2 separate regions of the Homo sapiens genome follow, and region 2 is linked to region 1. The links come from fine-mapping of genetic effects on gene expression. Tissue or cell type: tibial artery. Region 1 holds a variant in brackets; the other region holds the start of a gene. All regions are shown on one strand. Distances are from middle to middle.

Evidence for each region. PIP is the estimated chance that this variant, and not a neighbour inherited with it, causes the effect.
Region 2: F3 starts here. The variant in region 1 is fine-mapped to the expression of F3 in tibial artery (GTEx, PIP 0.99).

What each region holds. Positions count from the first base shown.
Region 1 is chr1:94,653,138-94,661,646 of GRCh38, reverse strand. All of the region lies in intron 3 of SLC44A3-AS1 (SLC44A3 antisense RNA 1), which reads left to right. Among named protein-coding and RNA genes, the nearest start is that of MIR378G, 89 kb to the left of the region's middle. RefSeq lists enhancers at 1-344, 1,822-2,340. The variant T/C (reference allele first, on the strand shown) is at 3,454.
Region 2 is chr1:94,536,698-94,545,206 of GRCh38, reverse strand. It overlaps F3 (coagulation factor III, tissue factor), which reads left to right and starts at 3,448. Exons shown (of 6, transcript NM_001993.5): 1 at 3,448-3,670; 2 at 4,839-4,950. The coding sequence starts at 3,571. MIR12133 (microRNA 12133) reads right to left here and starts at 1,505; the gene lies at 1,428-1,505. It overlaps LOC124904223 (a long non-coding RNA gene), which reads right to left and starts at 3,233. Exons shown (of 2, transcript XR_007066234.1): 1 at 1-3,233. RefSeq lists a silencer at 3,249-3,528.

The sequences.
Region 1 (8,509 bases):
CTATGTTAGCCTTGTCTTATGCAAAGTGCCAATTTACTGAGCACAAAACAAATACATAATTGACTATTCCCCTATCTGTTCCTTTTCTCTTGAATTACCATACCCTCCCTTGGATTACCATACCCTCCCTCTTTCCCCTCCAGCCCACTTTTCCCCTTTAAATATTGAAGCCCTCAAAATCATCTTTGGAGAAAGGCACAGGCCTTTCTCCTCTTTCTGTGACTCTGTCTTTATTTCTTCTGCAAATGTCCTTAACCTTGACAAAATAAATTGATTGAGATCTGTCTCACTTTTTTGTTTACATAAGGATAAAGAAACTGGGACTTGGAGAGGCAAATGGACATTTGCAAAATCTTAAAGCCAGTGAAAGGTAGAGGCTGACTTAAAGTCAGTTCACCCTACTCCAAATCCCAGTGGTTTTCTACTGTTATGCAAATCCCCTCCTCTCACATGGCCCCAGCATTCCATAGTGGCTGCATGTACAAGTGAGACTAGCAGAGGAAAATGCCACAGGACTGAAGGATGCAGAAAGGAACAATGACACTGAGATCTGGGGAGGGGCTCTGTAACTACAGTCTTTGTGTCTTTAGGTCTTAGTTTTCCTTTGGTTCTTGGGAAAGCACCTTTGGAAAAACTCTAATCTGTCTCAGCTGAACAATGGGCAAAGATACTTTGTTCCTGTCTTGTCCTGCCCCTGTTCCTTTTCCTTTAACATCCCATAAAGTCACAAGTGGGAGCAGAGCTGGAAGAACTCAGGGAATGATGGCCCTCACCCTAAGTACACCTTCAAGCCAGGCACTATGCTAGAATTTATAACCTCATTTACTCCTCCTAGCAACATTCTGAGGTATTGTTGATTGGCCTTATTTTCTAGGTAAAGAGGTTAAGAAAAATGAACAACTCAATGATTAAACATATAGCTAGTCTATACTCTCTCTTATCTCTGAACACTTTTCATCTGGAGCTATTAATGCCCTCTAGCCTTTATTATAATTATCACATATAATTATGCCTTTTCTCCTCAAAATTATCTGTTGGAGTCATCTTATAGTAGAGTCTTTACAGAACACAAAGCATTCAATCACTTTATTTCAGACACCAACCTTGTTTTTGATGAACATATGTTAGTCTTAAGCCATCTAAAGTAATGCTAATGTGGGATCTTATGGAAGACTACTGGTAATACAGGAAAAAAAGTGGCAAAGAAATCTGACACGTTTGGCAATTATTCCTGAGGCTCTGACCTCTCAATTGTTGAGTGTTGGAGGTCACAGTAAACAAACCATATAAAGATCATGTTGAAAGTCAACATTATTAATATACCATACTTGAAGGATATGTGGTTATTGTCTCACGTGTCCATGTGAAGAGACCACCAAACAGGCTTTTCTTTTTTAATTTTATTTTATTATTATTATACTTTAAGTTTTAGGGTACATGTGCACAACATGCAGGTTTGTTACATATGTATACATGTGCCATGTTAGTGTGCTGCACCCATTAACTCGTCATTTAGCATTAGGTACATCTCCTAATGCTATCCCTCCCCCCTCCCCCCACCCCACAACAGTCCCCGGTGTGTGATGTTCCCCTTCCTGTGTCCATGTGTTCTTATTGTTCAATTCCCACCTATGAGCGAGAACAAGCGGTGTTTGGGTTTTTGTCCTTGAGATAGTTTGCTGAGAATGATGGTTTCCAGCTTCATCCATGTCCCTACAAAGGACATGAACTCATCAATTTTTGTGGCTGCATAGAAACAGGCTTTGTGTGAGCAAAAATGCTGTTTATTTCACCTGGGTGCAGGCAGGCTGAGTCCGAAAAGAGAGTCAGCAAAGGGTGGTGGGATTATCATCGGTTCTTATAGGTTTTGGGATAGGCGGTGGAGTTAGGAGCAATGTTTTGGGGTCAGGGCGTGGATCTCACAAAGTACATTCTCAAGGGTGGGGAGAATTACAAAGAACCTTCTTAAGGGTGGGGAGAATTGCAAAGAACCTTCTTAAGGGTGGGGAGAATTGCAAAGAACCTTCTTAAGGGTGGGGGAGATTACAAAGTACATTGATCAGTTAGGGTGGGGCAGAAACAAATCACAATGGTGGAATGTCATCAGTTAAGGCTATTTTCACTTCTTTTGTGGATCTTCAGTTGCTTCAGGCCATCTGGATGTATACATGCAGGTCATTGGGGATATGATGACTTAGCTTGGGCTCAGAGGCGTGACAGTTATCTTATGAGATCACAAATAGGGAAAAAACTATCATGGCATGAGGTATAATTTTCAATGACAACATCATATTTAGATTCAAGAAGTGCTGAATCTCAAGCAATCCAGATGAATATGAAGATGCTGTGCTCTGAAAAATGGGCTTGAAGACTGGCCATAGGGAATGTCAAAACACTGATATCAAAAGTGCACTGGAAGAATTTGATTAAAAGTATTGCATTGTGAGTGGGTAAAGGCAGTATTTCTGCATTATAAACATGATGTGATTTTTTTTTTTTTTTTTTTTTTTTTTTTTGGGACGGAGTCTCACTATCTCACCCAGACTGGAGTGCAGTGGCACCGTGTCAACTCACTGCAACCTCCATCTCCTGGGTTCAAGCAATTCTTCTGCCTCAGCCTCCTGAGTAGCTGGGATTACAGGTCCCCACCACCATGTCTGGCTAATTTTTAAAAAAATATTTTTAGTAGAGACGGGGTTTCACCATGTTGGCCAGGCTGGTCTTGACCTCCTGACCTCAGGTGACCTGCCCTCTTTGGCCTCCCAAAGTTCTGGGATTACAGGCGTGAGCCACTGTGCCTGGCTGTGATTTTTAAATATATAATGAAAACTCAACATTTTAATCAAGATTTACAAATTAATGAATAGCATGTGATTTTACCTATAAGTAATTAAAATAACACATTATTATGCACAGACATTTGTCTATTTAATTAACATCCTGATATATTTTAATATCAACAAATATAAAAGTAAAAACCTTTTCTTAAGAGTTCATTTAGCAAATGAGGATGCTGTAATATTTGGAGTCACTCACATGTGGTACTGAGTTTTATATCGACTATTCCACTCTCATGGAAGTGATGACTATGTGTTCACTCACACATAGTTCAGACTAGCATACAGTCTGTCCTCAGTCAACGTGTGTTGAGTGTTGCTGTCATTTCAGAGATAAAGAAATACAGACTCCAATGAGTTAGGAGACTTGGCCAAAGCACACAGCAAATAATGAGTAGAGTTGGTTCTGTGACAGTTTTCTGACCTCCTGGCCAGAGTATAAGCCACTACAACCAGCTAGAGCACAAGGAATCATTTCCTCCTACCCCGCTGGGAGGATAGCCTCATCACAGGGCAAAGACTACAAAGCTTGTAAGCCATGAATGATATCTAGAGATATGTGTTATGTCTGGATCTGGCCACTGCTTAGGACAACTTCGTGCATGTAAGTTTGGCC[T/C]TTTGCTAATTTGTTATCAGTTCATGATAGCTGGCAAGCAAAATTGGCAATATTTGATCACTTGGCTTAGTAATACTATTTTCTTTCCATTTCAAATATTATCTCTTTTTGTCTCACATTCTTTTCAACACTTGATAGCAGCAGCTCACGCTGCTGATGCAACACAGGTGAAGAGCACCTTCCCCTCCCCCACCTGTGGGCTGATTCCCACCACGTGGATCCCAAGGCCATCCCAGGAACTCTTTGGAGGGGAGAAGCCCAGTGGAAACTGTCAGGCCTCTGAGCACAAGCCAAGCCATCGCATCCCCTGTGACTTGCACGTATATGCCCAGATGGCCTGAAGTAACTGAAGAATCACAAAAGAAGTGAAAAGGCCCTGCCCCACCTTAACTGATGACATTCCACCATTGTGATTTGTTCCTGCCCCACCTTCACTGAGTGATTAACCCTGTGAATTTCCTTCTCCTGGCTCAGAAGCTCCCCCACTGAGCACCTTGTGACCCCCGCCCCTGCCCACCAGAGAACAACCCCCTTTGACTGTAATTTTCCATTACCTTCCCAAATCCTATAAAACGGCCCCACCCCTATCTCCCTTCGCTGACTCTCTTTTCGGACTCAGCCCGCCTGCACCCAGGTGAAATAAACAGCCATGTTGCTCACACAAAGCCTGTTTGGTGGTCTCTTCACACGGACGCGCATGAAAGAAACTTTTTCAGATGTGTGGTGATGTAAGAAATACTAGGAAAAGGGTTTTGGTAGAACAGGCATAGCAACAAGGTTATTAATGTTGCAAATTGGCATACATTTTAATCAATGACATCAAATTTAGCCACAATTAGAGAAAGTTTTTTTTAATCACAATTTTATTAAGAGGTTGGAGGTATATTCTCACAAGTTAAAGAATGTGGTCTCCAAATATCATTTTAAGAACTGTACTTTAAAGAAATGTTAGCATTCCCTTAATTAAGAAATGCATGGAATATATGTATGATGGGGGGGCGTATGTGGGTGTGTGTGTGGGTGTGTGTGTGTTGTTTAAATCTTTCTCACTCTGGGCGAGGCAAGTTTTCAAAGGCTGGGCTGTCTCTGGGTAGAATCATGCCATAAGTTGCTTTCTGCCTTGCCCCCTCCCCACCATTCAACAAAAGTCCTTGTGGACCTCCCATCAGCTCCCTTCTTCCTTTCCATTCCCTCTCCAGGCCCCATGCCAGCCCTCAGAGTTGTCCACCATAAAACATTCCTCTTGGGGCCTCAGCTGGAAATGGCATGTCTCCTTTGAAGTGATTAGGTCCCAGAATGTTAGGATCAGAAAAGACTTGAGGTTGGGCATGGTGGCTCATGCCTGTAATCCCAGCACTTTGGGAGGCCAGAGGGGGTGGATCACCTGAGGTCAGGAGTTCAAGACCAGCCTGGTCAGCCTGGTGAAGCCCCATCTCTACTAAAAATACAAAAATTAGCCGGGCCTGGTGGCGGGCATCGGTAATCCCAGCTACTTGGGAGGCTGAAGCAGGACAATCGCTTGAACGGGGAGGCGGAGTTTGCAGTGAGCTGAGATTGTGCCATTGCACTCCAGCCTAGGTGACAGAGCGAGACTCCATCTCCAAAAAAAAAAAAAGACTTGTGTAGATCCCACGAGCAAACACTTCTCGTGTTCAAAGTAAAGGGCTCAAGGACCAAAGACCTCGATCTTCTGGGGTGACATGTCAGGGCAGACTCTGAGAATCATGTCTGGGGGTCTCTAATGCTTTCCTAGGGCCCAGAAGAGCAACCCATGTGGACAACGCTGATAAAAGGAATCGGTCCTTGAGGTCCCGGCACCATCCTACTCTTTGCCTTGTCTCTTTCCTCCAGACTGGCCCTAAGTGCCTCTTCCAATCCACCCCTCTGAATGGGGCAGGGTGGGCCTACTCACTGAAACGTGGCTGTGCCAGAAGAGTTTTCCAGATTCAGACTGATGCAGGGGTGGGTGAATACTCTGACTTGCAGAAGATTGCCTGGGCTTGAGTCCTGATTGTCAAGAACAAATCCACATTATCATGAACACTTATTGGACCGGGCATGGTGGCTCACACCTGTAATCCCAGCACTTTGGGAGGCTAAGACAGGAGGATTGCTTGAGGTTAGTAGTTTGAAACCAGCCTGGGCAACACAGGGAGAACAAGTCTCTGCAAAAAATAAAATTAGCTGGGTGTGGTGGTTCATGCCTTTAGTCCAGGCCACTCAGGAGGCTGAGGCAGGAGGATTGCTTAAGCCCAGGAGTTTGAGGCTGCAGAGAGCTTTGATTGTGCCACTGCACTCCAGCCTGGGCAACAGGCAAGACCTTGTCTATTAAAAAATTATTTTTTTAAAAGGACATCTATTACAACCCCTTTAATTGTCAACCTGTGAGTTACTGGAAACTTACTATTTTAGGGAGACAAAAGGCTAAAAAGACAGTTGTTAATTCTCAGCACAATTCAGAATTTTTTGGTAGACATATCATTCTTTTCTTCCCTGATCCATACACATGTATCATTCACAACCTGAACCCTTCAATGGAGTCTCCTTGTTCCTAAGATAAATTCCAGCCCTATAAAGGCCCTCAAGATGGAGCCTTGCTGACCATTCTGGCCTCATTTTGTACCACTGACCCCTCTTTCTGTGTGCCTCAGCCCTCTTGTCTTCTTCCTAGGAGAGGCTTTTCCTCATCCCTCAGTCCTAGTCAAGCCCCCCATCCCCACCCCAGTTGCACACTCCCTTAGCAACTTGGCAACTTCTGAAGGATTTATACAATTGTAATTAAGCAATTAGTTGAGTAACTGGTTGAGCATTCACTCCATATTCCTGAATGACCACTCACAGAGATCATGGATTATCTCTGTCTTGTCCCCCAAGAGCTTATGACTGTACCTTGCATGTATAATGGGTACATAATATTGGTTGAATGAAGAATGGGGATCATGGTGGGGCTGCATGTCTGGCAACCACACTGAATACAGGGGTGGGGTCTGGCCCAGCTGACTAGCGATGGGAGCTGGAGGGACGCAGCCTGGGTGGCTTATGAGAGCAGCCAGTGAACAGGCTGCCAGGCCAACCGGGGAGAGGGAGGCTAAACCTGGAGCATCTCATGAATAGGCCTAGGATATCCCTGCTGCCTGGGCCCCTCCCGGGATGACCACAGAGAGGACTCTGGAATTTGGCTTTCTGGCTCCATGTTTTTCTGAGCAACACAAGATTTGGATGAAAACCAGTTTAGGAGAAAACACAACATTATTTTATTCCTTGAAGGTCTGGGAAATCCTCTTGAGGAACAAGACAATTTGGGGTGGTCAAACTCATTCTCCACACCACATGGCCCAGAAGGGACCCTGGTCACCCATGGGCATTAGGGTATTTCTGGCTCCAGTTGAAAGAACTTTGCTGGCTTTGGAGTCAGGAAAACAGGTTCAAATCTGTTTTTCCACTTGTTAGCTGTGTGAACTCTGGCAAATGACGTAATCTCTCCTTGAGCTTTAATATTTGCTCTTATAAAATTGGGTATAATTACTAGGTTAATACAGGAATTAACAGATCATAAGTAAAGTGCCTGACCTAGAGGAGGCACTATATGTAAACAATCATTAAAATTACTGATGGTTTTATTACTATGTTAGCTTCTGGAGGGACTTTGGCTTTGATTCCTGTAACTTTTGACTTCTTTTAATGGGGATTGAATAAAAACCCATTGTGAATAGGTGTTAAAGCTGCTAGAAAGTTTGATTTCTCAGATAATAGAAATCTTCCTTTTAACAGCCTTTTATTCCTATTCAATGCAATTGCAACTCTGATCCAGAAACTTTATGGTTAGGATTACCTCTAGCAATTAATGTTCTCTCCAATGAGTGGGAAGGGAGGTCACCTCCACTCTGCTGTCCCAGAGATGACAGGAAATGCTGCACTGAGGTGTTGAGCCCAATTACTAGGTACTGTTAGGAAGAACACACAAAGAGGTGCACATTCCTGAGTGATGAGTGTGGGGCATTTTGTTTATCCACTCCTTACAAGGAATAAGTTATCGCTGGTTCTGCAGAAGGTCACTGTTATTTCTCTCTCCCCAAGTGGCTGTAATCAGCTTTTTCCTCAGAGGGATGGAACCATGATTAAACAGGGTAAATATACCAGCACTTAACATACCCAGCTATGAGGATATTGATAGACCCTTGGAACAGAGCTGGAGTTTTTGTCTAATCCTACCGACTCTCAGAAGACAAGCCTCCCTTGAACCCCAGAGGCAAGGCAGCCTGGGAGCCAGTCACAAAAGTTGGCCTGGTAGGAAGAGCTGGAGTTGTTTTTTACCCCGCCACAGGCCATTTGTTCCTTTCTTCCCTTTTCCTTCACTGATAGCCCTTGAGCACCGTGGTGTTGTGCAGGTGGTCCTGCAAGGAGCAGGGGACCCAGAAAGTGAGGGGTGATGCCTTTCCTCCTCTCAGAACGATCAGCCCTTTACACTCAAAGGAGCATGTAGATCTCAAGGCCACCCCTGGGATCTCTAAAGCTCAAGCCTCACCTCTGTGCTGAAGCCCTTGTCCTGTCCACCTCCTGTCCTTGGGACTCCCACTGCACCAGCTTGCACTCCATGCACAGTCTGATGCTTGCTTTTCTATGGTCTTTTGTGGTTTGTGATGCGTTCATGGGTGTTGGTCTGGCCTCCTCACCAAGACCACATCCTCACAGGCAGGTACTATGGCTTCCACTTCATGTGTGACCCTGCAGGGCTCAGCCCAAGTGCAAAAGTGCGGAGCATTAAAGGGGTGCTCGTTGAAAGCTGATTGATGGATTGATGGAAAGTGGGTTAGGTTTGTTTGGTTTTTGTTTTTTTGAGACAGAGTCTTGCTCTGTTGCCCAGGCCAGAGTGCAGTGGTGCCATCTCGGCTCACTGCAACCTCCACCTCCCGGGTTGAAGCAATTCTCCTGCCTCAGCCTCCTGAATAGCTGGGATTACAGACACATGCCACCAAGCCCAGCTAATTTTTGTATTTTTTTTTTTGAGGCGGAGTCTTGCTCTGTTGCCCAGGCTGGAGTGCAATGGTGCTGTCTC
Region 2 (8,509 bases), 120 kb after region 1:
CTTTTACCTGAATTTTGGGTAATGGTTTCATTGCTCTTTTTACCATTTCATATGCATAAAATAAGTTTCTCTGAATTATTCTCAATTTTACTTGCTATCATGTATCTTAACCTATCTCTTTCCTGGGAAATAAACATTTTGAGGAATTTGTTTTAAAAAGTTATTCAGCCTCTGTATGCAAGGAAAACTATCAACAACCTCATCGCATGATGAAGTATATTCTGAATCATCGTAGAATCCAGTCTTTTAAAAAAATGCTAGCTAGTTTCCAAACTTCTGTATCTGGTTTCTGCTTCTCAGCTATCTCTCCTCCTGGTGAGATTTTCTGGTGGTGCAGAGATAGCTAATCACTGGTTAGACTGCTAGAACTTGCGGTCGAGTGGTGCCTTTCCAGTCATGATGGATTTGTATTTTCTTACCAATCTCAGCATCATGAAACACTCACTGCCTGGCCCCTAGAAAGAGTTTTCAGTGACAGATTTCATCTCTTGAACACCAGTGAAATATTTGGTTGCACTCATAGTTTTATAAAGTATTCATTGACTCAAAAGGTATTAAGTGCCTATTATGTGCTGATAATTGTGGAAAGGGTTGAGAGAGGAAAAAAACAGACAAAAAACCCAATCCAACAGGAAAGATTAACAGGTAAACACACAAGTGAGATTAAGTGAAGTTCTCAATGAAAATGAGTCGGTAAAATTGGCAGCAAGTACTATAAAAGTACAGTGGAAGGGCTGAAACATCTCCGCAGTTATTTTCAGACTTCTCATCAACCACATTTCATCACTGGTTATGCAAAGGGAATTCAAACTCTTCTACGTGTCTCCTTGTCTGTCTATTTCAAGGACTAACCATCAGGATATTTCTGCCTAAGAACAATGAGTTCCCCAAACTGCAAAGTATTTTCTATACTTTGTGTGCAGTTTTTGTGCAGTTTTGCACTTTTCTGCACTTTGTGTACATGCAGAACATTTTTGAGTGCTTATGGATGGATTAATTAATCATTCATTTGATGGATTTACCACCCAGTCTTACTTTCCTTCATTGGGAGTAGGAGAAAGCCTGGTGATGGAAGGAAAGCCCCCGGGGTCAGAAGACCAGATCTGCACTGTGTGGTTAGGCAAGCCAGTTTACTCAGATCAGCTGGCCACAGGGTTCTCATCCATAAAAGAATGTCTGTGAGGTTCTCCCATCCTCTGACATCCTAAAATCCAATGAGAAAGGGACTGGTCAAGCCAGAGAGATTATTGTTATAGTTTAGTAACTTTTTGAACTTCTCAGAGCCTCCAAGATAGATCATGGAGGAGGGAACTGTTAACTGCTAAGCTTGACTTTACTGACAGGAGTAAAAAAAATTGTGTTAAGGTTAGGGAATAATTTTAACAGTCAATTTGTTCTTGTGAACAAATTTCAACAGTGAAATTTTAGATATGTACTTTTTAATGGTGCCAAGCAGCAGTTATTATAGATCAACTGCTGTTTGGCACCATTAAAAAGTACACTTCGCACCGTCAAAAAGTAGATCTGGCCACAATTAGATCAGTCAGGGAAAAACACTTCGCAATGAAATATTATTTACCACGTTTTCTTCCTCCCTCTTCTTGAAAATAGTAATGATTTTAGCATTTTTAAATCTTGAAGAATGTCATTCCGTACTGACTAAAAAGCCTGTGCAAACACCCAACATCTTCTCTTTCCTGTCTATTTTAATGGATATACAAAATAAATATTCATCTAATTTATCAATATTTAAGGCACATTGTGTATCACAATCCAATGGTAAACATTTTTCTTATCAAATGGCTGATCTTGACATTGTTTAAAGCCCTATATGATTTCAGAAAAGTCAGTGACTCCAAGTGGAATTGCAACAATTTCTTGGGTCTTGTAACAAACCTGAAGTGTAACTATTTCTCTTCAGCTACCTTCAATCCCAGAGAGCAAAGAATCACATCCCAGGTGGAGCTGAAGATCTCTTAGGGAAAATGACTCAGGCTAGAGCCTGCATAAAAAGAGGATTGCATGGCTTAGTTTTGCAAACATAAATTTTGTGGGTTTCAGAGCTGGCAGAGAGCTCAAAGAGGAAATCATCAAGGGCAACTTTCTGCTTCGAGGAAGGAAAGTCTACAAGGGCTAAACCTGGATGTGCTATTTCAGTTCAGGCAAAGGAGGAAAATTAAAATTTTGCACAGTTTTATTCTGTTAAAACAAGTGGTTCAGTAAGCTAAACGAGATATGTATATAGTATGCATTAAAATGCAAGACTGACTTCCCTGGGAAAACGTGGGAAAGAAGGAGAGAGGAAACAAACAATTCTTACACTAAGAATTCTCCAGTCGTGTCTTGCAGGCAATATAGAGTAATAATAATAAAAATGACAGGAGATACTTTGACAGGATGGCTTAAAATGCCACTCAATAGATGAAGAGTTGTTCTCATGCTTGGCAAGTTTACAGCAAAGCCCAGAAGGAGAAGCCAGAAAATAATTTAGAAAAACCAAAGCTTAAAACTAGTGGCACACAACTCTGGTTACATTTTTCATTTTCATTTTTGGTTCCTCTGCATTTCGGTGGAACTCAGTCCCACAGATGTCTTCTTCAATGTGGGAACCATCCTTTCTGGAACCACAGAGCTGCAGATGTCACGCTGGAATTCTCCCAGAGGCAAACTGCCAGATGTGAGGCTGCTCTTCCTCAGTCACTATCTCTGGTCGTACCGGGCGATGCCTGAGCCAACTGACCCTCAGACCTGTGAGCCGAGCCGGTCACACCGTGGCTGACACCGGCATTCCCACCGCCTTTCTCCTGTGCGACCCGCTAAGGGCCCCGCGAGGTGGGCAGGCCAGGTATTCTTGACCTTCGTGGGGTAGAAGAAGCCACCGTGGCTGGGAGAGGGCCCTGCTCACAGCCACACGTTTACTTCGCTGCAGGTCCCGAGCTTCTGCCCCAGGTGGGCAAAGCATCCGGGAAATGCCCTCCGCTGCCCGAGGGGAGCCCAGAGCCCGTGCTTTCTATTAAATGTTGTAAATGCCGCCTCTCCCACTTTATCACCAAATGGAAGGGAAGAATTCTTCCAAGGCGCCCTCCCTTTCCTGCCATAGACCTGCAACCCACCTAAGCTGCACGTCGGAGTCGCGGGCCTGGGTGAATCCGGGGGCCTTGGGGGACCCGGGCAACTAGACCCGCCTGCGTCCTCCAGGGCAGCTCCGCGCTCGGTGGCGCGGTTGAATCACTGGGGTGAGTCATCCCTTGCAGGGTCCCGGAGTTTCCTACCGGGAGGAGGCGGGGCAGGGGTGTGGACTCGCCGGGGGCCGCCCACCGCGACGGCAAGTGACCCGGGCCGGGGGCGGGGAGTCGGGAGGAGCGGCGGGGGCGGGCGCCGGGGGCGGGCAGAGGCGCGGGAGAGCGCGCCGCCGGCCCTTTATAGCGCGCGGGGCACCGGCTCCCCAAGACTGCGAGCTCCCCGCACCCCCTCGCACTCCCTCTGGCCGGCCCAGGGCGCCTTCAGCCCAACCTCCCCAGCCCCACGGGCGCCACGGAACCCGCTCGATCTCGCCGCCAACTGGTAGACATGGAGACCCCTGCCTGGCCCCGGGTCCCGCGCCCCGAGACCGCCGTCGCTCGGACGCTCCTGCTCGGCTGGGTCTTCGCCCAGGTGGCCGGCGCTTCAGGTGAGTGGCACCAGCCCCTGGAAGCCCGGGGCGCGCCACACGCAGGAGGGAGGCGACAGTCCTGGCTGGCAGCGGGCTCGCCCTGGTTCCCCGGGGCGCCCATGTTGTCCCCCGCGCCTACGGGACTCGGCTGCGCTCACCCAGCCCGGCTTGAATGAACCGAGTCCGTCGGGCGCCGGCGGGAGTTGCAGGGAGGGAGTTGGCGCCCCAGACCCCGCTGCCCCTTCCGCTGGAGAGTTTTGCTCGGGGTGTCCGAGTAATTGGACTGTTGTTGCATAAGCGGACTTTTAGCTCCCGCTTTAACTCTGGGGAAAGGGCTTCCCAGTGAGTTGCGACCTTCAATATGATAGGACTTGTGCCTGCGTCTGCACGTGTTGGCGTGCAGAGGTTTGGATATTATCTTTCATTATATGTGCATCTTCCCTTAATAAAGAGCGTCCCTGGTCTTTTCCTGGCCATCTTTGTTCTAGGTTTGGGTAGAGGCAATCCAAAAGGGCTGGATTGCTGCTTAGATTGGAGCAGGTACAACGTTGTGCATGCCCCGTATTTCTACGAGGTGTTCGGGACGGCGTAGAGACTGGGACCTGCTGCGTACTGGCAAAGCAGACCTTCATAAGAAATAATCCTGATCCAATACAGCCGACGGTGTGACAGGCCACACGTCCCCGTGGGTCTCTGTGGAAGTTTCAGTGTAGCGACATTTCAGATAAAAGTGGAAAAAGTGAAGTTTGGCTTTTTTCATTTGTATGCAGTCCTAACTCTTGTCACACGTGTGGGATTTATCTTTTTCCATAACTTACTGAAAACCCTTCCTGGCGGGCTGAACCTGACTCTTCCTGAGCTGAGTCCTGGACTGGCACACTGATGGCTCTGGGCTCTTCCCGGTCAAGTTATAACAAGGCTTTGCCCATGAATAATTTCAAACGAAAATGTCAAGATCCTTGCCGGTGTCCTGGGATTACAAGGTGAATCTTGTCATGAAGAAATTCTAGGTCTAGAAAAAATTTGAAGATTCTTTTTCTCTTGATAATTCACTAATGAAGCTTTTGTGGTTGAAAAATAAAAAGTGAGGTTTATGGTGATGTCAGGTGGGAAGGTGTTTTATACATCAATACATTCGAGTGCTCTGAAGTGCATGTAATAATAGCTGTTTCTCTGTTGTTTAAAGGCACTACAAATACTGTGGCAGCATATAATTTAACTTGGAAATCAACTAATTTCAAGACAATTTTGGAGTGGGAACCCAAACCCGTCAATCAAGTCTACACTGTTCAAATAAGGTAAGCTGGGTACAGAAAAAGAAAATTAAGGTCTTTGATGTTTCTACTGTCCTATGCTGAACAAGAATGTCTTTAAAGCTGATTACTGGATGAAATTATTTAACAGATGACGAAGAAGAAGGGATTCTTGGCAATTCGCTGGCCGGTGTCATACTCTATTAGGCCTGCAACATTTCCAGACCTTAAACTGATAGAACATTTTAATTGTTTTAATTGTTTTTGGAAATGATGGGAGAGTTCCTAAGTGGAGTATAAACTGTGGAGAGATGAACCATCTTGAGTAGGCACTGAAGTGTGCTTTGGGTCATGATAGATTAATTAATCTCATCTAAACATTGATGTCTTTTTCTGTTGCTGTCTAGACTGTGAACAATGTCTAACACCTTAGGGAAGAGGTGGGGAGGAATCCCAATGTATACATTGCCCTTAAGCAGTGTTTGATTCATTCATCTTTGGACTCCATGAATCGAAATCTGGTAGAATACATGATCTTAGTGGAGGAGGCCAAATGCGTGACTCACTGAGCCTGGCAGAGCAGAAATACTCTGCTGTCTGCACCCTCTGGGTCTGGTGTGGCTCTGCTTCTTGGTGCCTCAACTCTGACTGGCAGCTGTCCCCAGGAGGCGATAATTCAGCATGTTCAATCTAAAGGTTATGACTTCCTTGATGGTTTTCACCATATTCTTGGCAAGTTTTTGGTTTTTGAAATGTTCTAGGAGGCTTGGTAGAGATCTTATGAAATAGAGAATAGCTGCTGTGGAAATTATTTTAATGCTAATTACATAAAAGTACAAAAGTAGCACTAGCTAAAACAAAAGGTATTTTGCTGTTCTGTTTTGTTTTAGCTTGTGCCAGGCCTTTTACAGCATTAGGAATGCAACTTCTAGATAACGATGCATCTTTTAAGTGAATGTTCTTGTTTTTCAAAATGAACTTCATGACAGTAGTTGCCAAACCAGCAAGGAGAACTTGCATGCATACGTGCATGCATGTGTGGATATGTATGGGGGTGGGGGGAGAGAAAGATGAAGGAATTTCATAACATGAAATAATGATTACAGTTCTGGTCAAACTTGTCAATTCAGATTTCACCAATTGAGAATTAGTAAGTAATTTCTCTGATACAGGCCTGAAGTTTACCTTAGTAAACACTTTACTTCCATATGGTAAAAATTAGATTTTGGGAGGAATGCTTACCTCCTAAATATATTCAATCTAATATTTGAGGGACACATGGGAATATATTTATGATTCATCTGCTTTTTAAACATAAGCCTTTGTTAACTGTAAGTTCTTGAACTTTATAAGGCTGCTGTTATTTAAATGAGCACAGCTCCTGATCTGCAAACAGCAGAGCGCAGGGCTACAGCTTGGGGGATGCCAGCCGACTCAGGGTGGTCCTATGGACTGAACAATCTCTTGCTGCTGTACTGGAGGGCCTGGGAGCTTTTCCATCAGCCTCGGCCTGAGGTGTGCACTCTTCTCCTGCCCACCCCAGGAATAAATGAGATTCCTGGTTAAAAAGGACCAGAGCAGTCATTTTACAGTTGAGGAAACTGTTGCTCTGAGAAGTGAGGGATTTATTCATGACTACACTGATGGTGAGTGCCCATGTCAGGTCTGGAACCAAAGTCTACCCAGTATCCACACACCACCATCCCTCAGGTGGCTCTGCCACAGTCTGATGGGAGGCTCCAAAGCGGGAGGAAGAAGGAAAGTCTTGCCCACTGCATCTCCTCAGTTGGCCTTCCTCTCTGCCTGTTTTCCCTCCCTACAGTTAGCATCTTAAGCAGCTGCCCCTCTTCCCTCCCGACTGCTCTCACTACTGCAGCCTGGCTCCAGCCGCAGGACACTACTGCTGTGCAGAAGCCCCTACTTGGAACTCCAACTGCATTTTTCACCTTTGCTAACAGTTTTCAGTGGTGGTTGGGAAATGTTATTGGCTTAAGCCTTAGCACAAACCGTCACCGGTGATATTCATTCCATGGAAATGTTCTGAATTCTAAAGCTGAATTTACAAAGCTTCTGGAAAACAACCTGCAACCAAATTAGTGACTGAATTTTTTAGTTAACTCAAAATTCCAAATCAGAGGGTTTTGCAATGCCTGGAGGAACCTTGGAGGCTTTTAAAGTGTTAATGCTATTAATGGCATTCAGAGGGATTTTCTACAGAATTGTCCCTTCATTACCTGTTTATACAGTTTTACTACTTACCAGGGTACTGTATAAATCCTTGTGCTAAATTTTGCTATAGAGTATGTGGTCCCTGCTGTGAGCTGGGAGGAACCAAATACTGTATCTCTATGTTACATAGAAAGCCCTAGGAGACTTTCTCCTGTTATCTGAACAACTATTTGCTGTACTGATAAAAAGGAAACAGCATAGTCTCATTCACTTTTTGAAATGGAAATGATAAAATAAAACACATTTTGGTCATTCGGGAACAAAATACCCTCTCTACTTTTATCACATAAAATTAAATAAATAGAAACCAAAATATTTCAGTATCAATCTTAGTTTGTGCACTTTAGGATAAAGAATGTGTTTACCCAAATCCTTTTGGCCTGGTTACTTAGTTCAGATTTTGAAAGAAAATATATTTGTGGCTTTTATGTGTGAATTTAGACAATGGAATCCATGTGGTGCCTCGTTTTCCCTGAGATTATGTATTAATTCAACCTGTAAATGCAAACCATCTAATAGTCAGCGAGACCCTATAGCCCTGCTGCTTAATGGGGGCACACAAGGGCATGCAGCCCTCGTACCAGGCAGACTGTGTTCATATTAACAGCATCGTGGAGAAACTCATGCTGGGGGACAGGGGAGGGAGATGTAAATGCTCAGCAGGGAGATCTGGAGATTCCTGGAGCAGGTGGAGTTGGGACCTGGCCTTGAACGATGGGTCTGGCTCTGGCAGTCAGTAATGCCAAAGGGAAGAGCAGCATAACTGTCACTTTCCATGGGACAGAAGTGTGTGAATCAAGTTGCAGTGACGCTTCACCTATTTATTATTTTGGTCATTTAGAAGAATTTCATTGTCAGTAGAAGTCCTTTAAATCATTTCCCCTTCAGTGACGTCTCACAAAAGAAAGATCTGTCTTTAGCTTTTTAGTCTCAGACTTTATTAGACAGATACTACCTGTACTCTTATTCTGTAATCTTTGTTGGGATGGATTCACATCTTGCAAAGGAAGGGAGGCATGTAGTATAATGGGGCAAACAGACCCAGCTCTGCCACTCGTTAGATATGTGACCTTCTGCAAGTTGCTTAGTGCCTGTGAGCTTCAGTGTCCTCATGGATAAGAAAGATCCAACACCTTCTTGGAAGGATTATATCAAATGAAGTAACATGAGTAAAGGGTCCAGCAGAATACCTGGCATATAGTGGAGTCAATGAATGATTAATAATATTATTAATAGTGGTCATGAGAGAATATATGTATAACATGTTATTATGTAGACTCACTATATAGACTCTATTCTACATAGAATATAGAACATTATATAACAAACAACTATAATAAGTAGACTATAGTAAACAACCTCACTTTGTCTCAGT